Linked DNA regions of Homo sapiens: region 1 is linked to region 2. Evidence: fine-mapped expression QTL. A gene starts in region 2. The other region holds a variant in brackets. All regions are shown on one strand. Distances are between the middles of the regions.

Region 1 (5,474 bases), 530 kb before region 2:
CCTCCACCTCGCGCCTGTCCGTTTGTCCGCGCGTCCACTTAGGGAGGAGCGGGGCGGAGGAGAAGGGAAGGGGAGAGGAGGGGGGTCTCTCCACCTCTCCACCCACCCCCGCCCCACCCCCACTCCCTCAGTCCCGGGATCGAACCTTATTTAGAGTCGCGATTCGACATCTGTTTTCAAATTTGATCAGCTCTGAACTTTATTTTCCGAGTTTGAGGAAAATTATATTCCATCGATCGCGCCCCCGCCCCCTCCCCCGCGCCGCCGCCGCCGCCTCCATATATCTGCGAGCCGAGCCCGGCCGGGCGGCCGCGAGGGCGGGAGGCGCGCGGCGCGCAGAGGAGTGGAGGGAGGAGGAGGAGAACGAGGAGGAGGAGGAGCAGGAGGAAGAGGAGGAAGAGGAGAAGGCGCAGGAGGCAGGGCCGCCCCGCGCCCCCAGCCGGCCAGGCTGTCCCCGGCGCGCGCCCGCCCGCGCTCGCTGTGCTGAGCTCCAGCCCGGAGCTCCGTCCTCAGCTCTCCCCGTCTCTGCTCTCTTTGCGCGTCTATCTCGCTGTCTCTCTCCCTCTCTGCATCTCCCCGTCTCTGCTCGTCTCCCCGTCTCTGTCTCCTTGGCTGTCTCTCCGTCTCTGAGTCTCTCCTGTCCCGGCGTCTCAGAGACTCCCTCTCCTCGTCCTCTGGGTCTCTGCCTCCCCGGGGCTCCGGGCATCTCCCCCCACCCCGCCCCTCGCCCCGGTGCCCCCTCCCCAGGACGCCGCGGGGGCCATGGCTGCGGGATCCGAACTTTAAACACTTCTCCCCGGACCGGAGCGGATGCGAAAAGCCCAGAAAGTGAGTGAGCGCCGCGGCCGGCGCAGGGGCGGGGAGGGGGCGGGGATTCCCGCCCCAGGAGGGGGCGGGCGCGGGGGTGGTCCCGGGAGGCCTGAGAAGCTGGGCCTCCGAGCCGGTGGAGGGGTAGGCGGATGGGGTCATCCGCCCCGGCTGTAAGGGGCAGGTGGGGCAGCGCCCAACTCTGGGAAGGTGGGAGGCGGGTAGCGCTAGAGGTGCGGCCTCGGGACAGGGGTGCGAGATTTGGGGGCGGGGAGGGAGAGCGAGTGAGAGCCACGGAGATGGGGTCTGCAAGAGACTGGACTGAAAATCTGGGAACGGGGGTTGGTGGCCGACCTGAAGGTGGATTTGGATGTTTGGGGCTGAGGAGTCTGGATATTTGGGGCTAGATTCTGAGTGGGGTTTAGAGGTCAGGGCTGAGGGCTTGCATATTTGGGACCTAGGGGCTCAAAGCCAAGAGACTGGACACTTGGGGCGGAAGATCTAGATATCTGAGGTTGGGAGCTGACTGGGGCTGGGAGTCAGGACTGGGGGTGTGGATATCTGGGACTGGGGATCAGCATAGGAGTTTGGACTTGAGGGGGCCAGAAGTCTGGATTTGGAGTTGGAGTTCAAAGCTAAGGGTCTGCGAATTTGGATCTGGATATCTGGGGTCTGGATATTTGGTATGAGGGGTCACAGGGTCTGTGGGAAGGACATTTGGGCCAATTCTGGGGTCTGCACACTTCGGGGCAAGGAGTACAGGCCTGGCCCTGACCTTCGTGGGGCCGGGGCCCTCTGGGACACCCTTTCTATCATTCCACCACTGTCGCAGGGCCCTGCTGGGCCACTTCTGTTATCTCTCCCCTGGCTGGGTCTCTCCTCACTGTCTCTCTGTCTCTGTCTCTCACAGCATCTCTGTGTCCACCTCTAACTCTCCCAGGATCTGTCTCTCTATCTCTGTCTCTCACAGCATCTCTCTCTTCCTTTTTGGGTCCAACTCTTAAGACTATCTCTCTCTAAATCTCTGTGCTTATCTCTCCCTGTGTCTCTTCCTTTCTCGGCATCTATCTCTCTCTCTTCCTTTCTCGGCATCTCTTTCTATCTCTCTCTCTCTGCCTCTTTCTGTCTCTTACTGTCTCTCTGTCTCTGTCTCTCCCAGCATCTCTGTCTCTGTCTCCCCCTCGCTGGTTTCCGCTCAGATTAAGCCGGGGACCTAATTCCAGGCCCAGGATCGAATTTTCTGGCAACAAAGGGAAATAGCGAATCGATCGGTCGCTCTGGAGATTAAGAGACAAGCGGCGCGCGGATCTATCACGGCTAAACGGCCCCCCCGCCCGCTCCCCCCTCCCGGCCGGCCGCCGCGGCCCAGA[C/G]GCGCTCCGCATCGCCAAGCAGCCTCAGGGGCCCTGGCTGCCCGGCAGGCCAGCAGGCCAGGCCTCGCCTAGCCCAGAGCTAACTCTGTGCCCCACCCAGGGCCAGAGCCACGGGAGGGACCCGAGAGCCAGAACTGGCTCCCCAGGGAGGGGAGGACAGGGGAGCGAGAGAAATCGAGGTGGCAGACCATCTGGCAGAGTCACACTGCACCCACCTGTGGCCTCAGGTAACTAACCTTTCACACCTGTCTATCAATGCACCTGTCACATCCATGTTCCCCCTTCAACTCCCCAAATCTGGACTTCCAGGTAACATCTATCTCCTCATACCTGCCTGCACGCAACACCTGTCCTCCATACCTGTTCCCTTCATCTGCCCTGGAGGTAACACCTATTTCCTCTCACCTGCCCCTCCAGGTAACACTTGTCCCCCTCACACCTGCCCTTAAGATGTCTGGTCTCTCGGGGAGCATACGTCCCCTCTTACCTGCCCCTCCAGGTAATACCTGTTCTCTAAAATCTGCCCCTTCCACTGGAATCCCTGCATTTTATCTCATTTCATGTCACACTGGCCCCTTCCTACCTGTACGTGAGCCATCCCACCTGTCCCCTAAAGCTGCAAACTCACCTGTTCCTCACACATTCGTATTTCTTCACCTCTTCCTCCTCTCAAGCAGTACCGAGTCACCACACATGCACACACTCACACACACATTCCTTCTGTTGCACACAAGCACTCACACATGCAACCTGCTAACCTGTCCCCTCAGGTAAGGCCTGCCCCCACCAGTCCCCAGCCTCCTGGCCCTCACCCATCCTCCTCCGTGACAGTGTTGCACCTCCTTAACCACCCCAACACCTGCCCTTCCAGAAGAGCTGGCCACACACAGGTCACCTAAGAGCACACCTGTCGCTCACATCCCTCTCTACCTGTACCTGACTTCCAAGGTACACTGACTTCCAAGGATTCCCCCGTACCTGTCTTTCCTACTTGTCATTTCGGGTTACTCATCACAGACAACAGAAGCACCTTCCCCACCTGTGTCCTAACCCCAAGCACCACCTGATCACCAATCCACACACTAGTACCCTCCTCATGGCTTTCCCTGCCATTATGCCTTCCTCCAAGCTCTTGTCCCCTCAGAGTTTCCCGGTCCCTTGTACACTTGCTCACCTGTGTCTCACTCCTTCTTGCACTGTCTTTGCCTCTCCTGGTCTCTCACTGTCTCTCACTATACACAACATTACTTTACACACACACGTTTGGGGCAGGAGTCTGTCCTTGGCCACAGGTATCTGCGTCACCTGTATACCTGTTTTCCCACACCTGTCCCTCAGGTACTCTCTATCCACTTCTCTTCTTTCCCACATACCTAATTTCCCATGTTTCTCTCTCTCTCTTGCTGCACAAGGTCACACCAGTAACCCCCTGCACCTGCCATTCCTCACCTGTTTATCCCAGGGAATCCTCTGCCCTGGTAACACATTCAAATCATTTAATCAGCAAACAGATACCGAGGCTTCGACACCCACTATGCATACCCCCACTTAATCTCTCTTTGCTTCACATCTCTTCAGCTGGGTCTAGGGGTCACCTCCTGAAAACAGCCCTGTCCCACAGACATGCACCTGGTTCCCCACACTCCAGCCACCTCTCTCCTTTTCCTCCCCCCAAACATCCATGTGACCGGAGTCCCTTTGCACCTTTTGCAAGCATTGGGAACCCACTGCACACCTCTGCCCCATTCTCTGCTATGTTCACTTTTGATACCTGTCCCTGCAGCTTGTCACCACCACACCTTTAGGAAGAAACCTTCAGATCTCTCACACCTGTCTCCAACCTGCTTCTCTCCAGAAACACCGGTCCCCTTTCCTAGCACGTGTCTCTGACCAGCTCTCTCCTCGAGGAGCGCCTTCCTCCACGTGCATAACACCTGTAGCATGTGTTAGACACATGTGTCGCCTGTTCCCAGCCACCCCCACACCTGCTCCCCGCACTGCACAGCATCTTAAGTCCGAGGTTATCTGACTTCAATGTGCATCAGAAACACCTGGTCCAGGTATCATTCTCTGAGTAGCAGGTGCTTGTAATGTGTGCCCCACCTGTTCCACCACATAACACCTACCCTCCCCATATATACTGATGGCGACAACGAGAATGAGGATAAAGGTGAGGGTGATGGTGATGACAGCTCCCGATTACTAAGACCACCATCCATCTCTGTGACAGACACCAAGTTCTTCACACCCATTGTCTCATTTGTCCTCACAGGACCCTCATGAGGCACGTACTTGCCTCTTGTCCCCATTTTACAGAGAAGGAAACTGAGTCCAGAGAGTTTCTTTGAGGTCCCAGAAACAGGTAGATGTTAGAGATTTGAGTCAAGTCAAGGCTGTCTGACTTCAGAGACTGCCCTCCTAGCCATCCAGGTGTCCTTACCTCCCTCATCTGCCCCTCAGGTGACCTCCTCCCTCCACAGACACACCTATCCACCTAGGGACTTTGGTGACACTTGCTTCTCCATTACCTCCCAACCCCATCTCCCCTACTCTCCAGGCTCACTTTCTCACCCTTCATTGACTCCTGGGGCTAAGGCTGTCATTCCACATGCTCACCCCCACCTCCCCCACAAGCTGTTTGGGGCCAGCACAGCCCCCTCCCAGAGCACCCCCACCTCCCCAGACACACCCCCAGCACAGCCCCCTCCCAGCGCACCCCTACCTCCCCCCAGCACAGCCCCCTCCCAGCATACCCCTACCTCCCCACACACACCCCCAGCACAGCCCCTCCCAGCGCACCCCTACCACCCCCCAGCACAGCCCCCTCCCAGCACACCCCTGCCTCCCCAGACACCCCCCCAGCACAGCTCCCTCCCAACACACCCCCGCCTCCCCAGATCCACCCCCACCTCCCCAGACACACCCCCAGCACAGCCCCGTCCCAGCACACCTCCGCCTCCCCAGACACCCCCCCAGCACAGCCCCCTCCCAGCACACCCCTGCCTCCCCAGACACACTCCTGCCTCCCACACCGCCCCTCCCTGCATGCTGGCCTTTCCTTTCCACCCACCCTCACTTTCATTTCCTTTCTCCATTTCCACCTTTGCCACCACCTGCCCCTGTCTCCTTGTCCCTGTCCATGTCTGCCTGTCTTAATTCTGAGTCTCTCTGTCTCTCTTGGTTTCTGGCCTCTCGACTCCTCTGTCTCACCCTGTCTTTTTGTCTCTGTCTGTCTGTCTCCCAGTCTCTCTTTGTTCTCTGTATTTCTCTGGTTGTCTTTGTCTGTGTCTGTTTTTC
Region 2 (5,205 bases):
CAAAAAAGAAAAAAAAAGAAAAAGGAAAGAGAGGTACAGAAAGAAAGAGAGAGAGAAAAGAGAAGAGAAAAGGAAAGGAAAGGAAAGGGAAAAAGAAAAGAAAAGAAAAAGGAGAGGGGAGGAGAGGAGAGGAGAAGGAGAGGAAAGAAAGAAGAAGAGAGAAAGAACAGGTGGGAGAAATAAAGGGGAAAAAACAATAACTCTTAAGATAATACAAATTTAAATATATATAAATAAAAAGTAGGGACTTCTTCCCTCCCCACTCCCCACCAAAAATGAAGTAGGGGAAGCAAGAGGAAAGGTAATCAAGAGATTGAGACAGGAGAGAAAGATTTAATCAGCCATAAATGACCTTTCCCTAGCCTGCCCCAGTCCTGCCCACCTCCTGCCCCACTTGCCCAGCCAATGGGCCCCTGGGACTGAGATCAGCTGTGGAGGATATGAACTGCTCAAAAAAAAAAAAAAAAAAAAAAGTGAAAAGGTCTCCAGCCCAAAGGCAAGAGACTGCCCTACCCACACCTTGCTCCTGCAGCCCTTCTGTATTTACCTGTTTCAAGTGACTCCGTTCCTAGATACCTACTACGTCCTACTCCTGGCCCATCTTCTTCACCCTCCTCCCGTTTGTTCCCCTACCCAGAGCTTCTTTCTACAGATTCCATCTTCCCCTCCTTATGGATTGGGGATCAGAGGATCAGACTCAACCTCACAATATCTTTTCAGATTTTTTTCCCCAGGGCCTCACCAATCCAGGCCTTCCCAAGGTCACCCCTTTCTTCTCCCCATCTCCAAGGTTAGTTTCTGTCCCTTCCCTCCACCCTCACTATCAACATTCCTATTGCCCTTAGGATGTGCCAGGTCCAGTCCTTAGCATTTTACATATTGATTTTTCACAGCCCTATGAGGTGGCCACTGTTAATATTTTAGAGAGGAAAATTAGCTCCATAGATCCAGAGAAGTGCAGTCCGTTGGCCAAGGCTACACAAGTGGAAAGCGGCAGAGCAAGGACATGCATCCACCCATGTAACCACTACTCTCCTATCTGTCAACTGTAGTTCAAAGCTCTTCTGCAACCCATTGCCTCTCCCCGTCTAAAGATAGGCTTCCACCTAGGTTTTTTGCAGTGTAATCTTGCCCTTAGCAGCATCCACCTGAAGGGATTGTGACCCTTTTGACAAGAAACAAAGCCTTCTCAAGTGTTTCTAAGAAATGTGGGCAAAGTGCCCTGTCTGTACCTCTCTCCCTCCTTTTTTCCCCTCATTAATTCAACAAATATTAATCGTCTCCTCTGTACAGTGTCCAGAACACACGAATTCTCTGTCTTGATATTCGATCAAGAGACACAGGAATCAAACAAATTTTTTACACAATTCATTTTAAAATCAGAATTGTGGCAAAGGAGCAAAGAAATACAAGGCCCTATGCAGCCTGTGACAGGGACCTGTTCTCTTCTTTCTTCTTCTTGAAGAGGGATCTTTGCCCAGAAGAAAGTCCCTCCCTTACAAAGTCAGTTTCATTCTCCAAACCCTGAGGGAGAAGGTCTTGCGGTCTTCCCCTGTTCCTCCAAGGAGCCTCCCCTGAATACCAGTGGCAGCTAATAAGGAACCCCCATCTCTCTCTTCAAGTCGTCTCCCTCAGGGCCCACAAAGAAGTTGCAAACGGGTTTTTTCCTCTCCTAAAGAAGTGGAAGTTCTTTTCGTCTCCTAAGGAAGTGGCAGATCTTCCCTTCGGTGTCTTCTCCAAGGAGTCTCCCACTCTTTTTCCCTTTTGTGACAGCCCTTCCTTCATATCCTTCAGGGACCCCACACTCTGAAGATAGCCTTTACATCCCTAATCCCCTTTGGGAAAACCGCCTGGGGCCCAGGTACTCACAGATCTAGCCAGTCCCCGAGCCCCAGGCTGCCGCAGCAGCAGGAGGGCAGCCTGGCTCAAACCACGGTTTAGCCGCCAGACCCTCGCTGCAGCGATCGCTACCGCCATCTTGGCTAACAACCACTCAGCGGTCCGGCACTCACGTAGGCTAGATTCGGGGCTGCCTCTTTATGTGCCTGACGCAAACTCCAGCACCATCTGACAAGAAAACCATCTTCTTCCCGTTCTGTGGTAGATAGAATGCACAGAGATTTGGAGAAAAAAAAATCTATCTACCCAAAATTTTCTCCAATCGCCTCATTGTAGTTACTCCTGTAACAGGCAAAGAAGAGGGCAACCTGACCAGGGCCTCAGGGATTTAGGGCCCGGGGGCCCAGAGTAAAGCGGATCAATGCCAAGGCCTGCCTTCTGTTCCCAAATGTCCAATGGCGTTGCCAGAGTTAGGAGGTGGGACTGGGCGGAGCCAGATTGTTGGTAAACGCTAAGCCACGTGCGGACGCCCAGGAGGATGGCCCAGCCCGGCGCGTGCGCACTGGTTACGCAGCCTGTTTGCGGCGCGCGCTGCCAGGCGGAAGTGACAACTGCAGCCGCACGTGGGCTCGGCGCGATGGAGGAGGAGACGCATACTGACGCCAAAATCCGTGCTGAAAATGGAACAGGGTCCAGCCCTCGGGGTCCTGGCTGCAGCCTCCGGCACTTTGCCTGCGAACAGAACCTGCTGTCGCGGCCAGATGGCTCTGCTTCCTTCCTGCAAGGTAAGAACTTCACCCAGGTCTTTCTTTTGGAGAGGGACTACCGTGTACTGTGCAACCGAGTGCCCACCTCCTCACGATACCAGCTGGTAAATGTCACTCCTGCGTTGATGCATGATTTCTTGTCCGATTGAATACTACTAAATACGCAGGGATACACACATCTCTCCCTCACGACTAGAAAGGAGAAGATAGTTCCATCTTTGTAACTATCTCTGAGAATGAGAGGAGGGGCAGACTGTCCGCCCAAGAATTGATATTTCAGAATAGGGAAAATCACCTCGCCAGGGTAAATATCCCCCTTAACTCGATTCCTCCTCCACCCTCCCACCCCCACCCCCCACACACACACCCTCTAGGTCCTTGCATCCCGGACTGAAGCAAACCTGTCTATTTGCATACTGTGGACTGTGGCGGATCTTTCACCCACGTAAATACTCCTCAAATTGAAGATAATGTCATTGCGCTGGGTTGAGAAATACATCCCCACCGCTACCTCACTGCATCTCTCCACACAAGTAAATATCCCTAAGATTAGGGCAAGTCAAAAAAAAAAAAAAAAAAAAGATTAGGGCAAGTCTTACCTATAGAGCAAATATCCCCTTTTCCTAGCTAAATAACTCTCAGAAGTAGATTAACTCCAAGAATATTTCTCTTTAACGTTTGAGACGGGAGGCCGGGGGCGGTGGCTCACGCCTGTAATCCCCACACTTTGGGAGGCCAAGACCTGTGGCTCACCTGAGGTCAGGAGTTCGAGACCAGCCTGGCCAACATGGCGAAACCCTGTCTCTACTAAAAATACAAAAACTAGCCAGGCATGGTGGCGGGCGCCTGTAATCCCAGCTACTCGGGAGGCTGAGGCAGGACAATCACTTGAACCTGGGAGGCAGAAGTTGCAGTGGGCCGAGATCGTGCCATTGTACTCCAGCGTGAGCGACAAAGCAAGACTCTGTCTCAAAAAAAAAAAAAATTGAGACAGCGTCTCACGATGTCACCCAGGTTGGTCTTGAACTCCTGGGCTCAAGCAATCCTCCTCCCAAAGTGCTCATACAGGTATGAGCCACCACGCCCAGCCCCAATACATTTTAACAAAATTTGGCTGCTGTGTTGATTGTGGGGAGTATGGGGGAAAACAGGGAGGTGATGGTGGCTCCAGCCAGAGCAGGAGTAGTGGAGGTGATGAGATTCTGGATGTAGTTTGAAAGTAATACGGACAAAACTTACGTATAGTTTGGTTTGAGTGCGAGGAAAAAGATTCAGGCATAACTAAGGTTTCTGCCCAGATCTGTACAAGTCTGGAAATCAGAAGAGAGACCCAAGCTGGACATAGGCAATTTGGAACTCTCTGGCTATATAGATGGTATTTCAGGCTATTGCCTGAACGAAGTGAGTGTAGATGGAAAAGAGAAGAGGTCCCAGGACCAAGCCCTAGGCCTTCCAACTTGAGCAGTCAGAGACATGTGACAAGCTAGCAAAGGAGACTCAGAAGGAACGCCCAGAGAGTTAGGGGGAAACCAGGAGATGGTGGTGACCTGGGGCCAAGAAAAGAGCATGTCTGAGATGTGAGGGCTGACCAGCTGTTTCAGCCTTACTGACAGCCGGGTCATGGGAGGGTTGATCATTTGGAGGTCAGTGGTGACGATGTTGAGCTGCCGCAATGGAGTGGTGGGGTCACAGAAAAGGAAGAAGAGGCAGCTGTTCAGGAGTTCTGCTGTAAGAGGATCAGATAAGTGGGGCAGGAGTTGTAGATTGTTGTGGGGTCAACAGGGGAGAGAATTGCTGGAGCCACGTCTTCAAGAAGGTGAGAGGGGAGAGACTCTTGTGCTCGGGCAAAACACAGGCAGTTCATCTGGAGCCAGAGGCAAGTTCTGTTTTGGTAACTTCTCCAGTCCTCAGGGCAGTTTCTCCTGGAACTAAGCATACCTTCCGTGTAAGGGCAAATTGGGCTTCCCAGGAAATACGGCCTTAACCAAGGACCTTCCCAGGCCCTCCCTCAGGCTTAGCGCTTATGCTGAATTGAGATACCTAAAGTTTCTTCGAACGTAAGAATTAAGAAGAGGCCGGGTGCAGTTGCTCACAGCGGTAATCCCAGCACTTTGGGAGGCCTCTGAGGTCAGGAGTTCTTTTTTTTTTTTTCTTTTTTTTTTTTTGAGATGGAGTCTCGCCCTGTCGCCCAGGCTGGAGTGCAGTGAAGTGATCGTGGCTCACTGCACCCTCCACCTCCCGGGTTCAAGCAATTCTTCTGCCTCAGCCTCCTGAGTAGCTGGGACCACAGGTGCGTGCCACCGCGCCCGGCTAATTTTTGTGGTTTTTAGTAGAGACGGGGTTTCACCATGTTGGCCAGGCTGATCTTGAACTCCTGACCCTGTGATCCACCTGCCTCAGCCTCCCACAGTGCTGGGATTACAGGCGTGAGCCACCTCGCTTGGTTGAGGTCAGGAGTTCTGAGACCAGATTGGCCAACATGGTGAAAACCCATCTCTACTAAAAATACAAAAATTAGTCGGATGTGGTAGCACGCACCTGTAATCTCAGCTACTCTGGAGGTTGAGGTACAAGAATCACTTGAGCCTGGGAGGCGGAG

The links. PIP is the estimated chance that this variant, and not a neighbour inherited with it, causes the effect.
Region 1: its variant is fine-mapped to the expression of EXOSC5 in lymphoblastoid cells (GTEx, PIP above 0.99).

The regions. Positions count from the first base shown.
Region 1 is chr19:41,923,394-41,928,867 of GRCh38, reverse strand. It overlaps ERFL (ETS repressor factor like), which reads left to right and starts at 419. Exons shown (of 6, transcript NM_001365103.2): 1 at 419-828. It also overlaps a transcript of ARHGEF1 not described here. RefSeq lists an enhancer at 1-22 and a silencer at 294-473. The variant C/G (reference allele first, on the strand shown) is at 2,178.
Region 2 is chr19:41,394,600-41,399,804 of GRCh38, reverse strand. EXOSC5 (exosome component 5) reads left to right here and starts at 2,446. Exons shown (of 6, transcript NM_020158.4): 1 at 2,446-2,624. The coding sequence starts at 2,477. BCKDHA (branched chain keto acid dehydrogenase E1 subunit alpha) reads right to left here and starts at 1,987. Exons shown (of 9, transcript NM_000709.4): 1 at 1,870-1,987. The coding sequence starts at 1,977. RefSeq lists enhancers at 1,132-1,803, 1,959-2,238, 1,804-2,476 and a silencer at 2,235-2,523.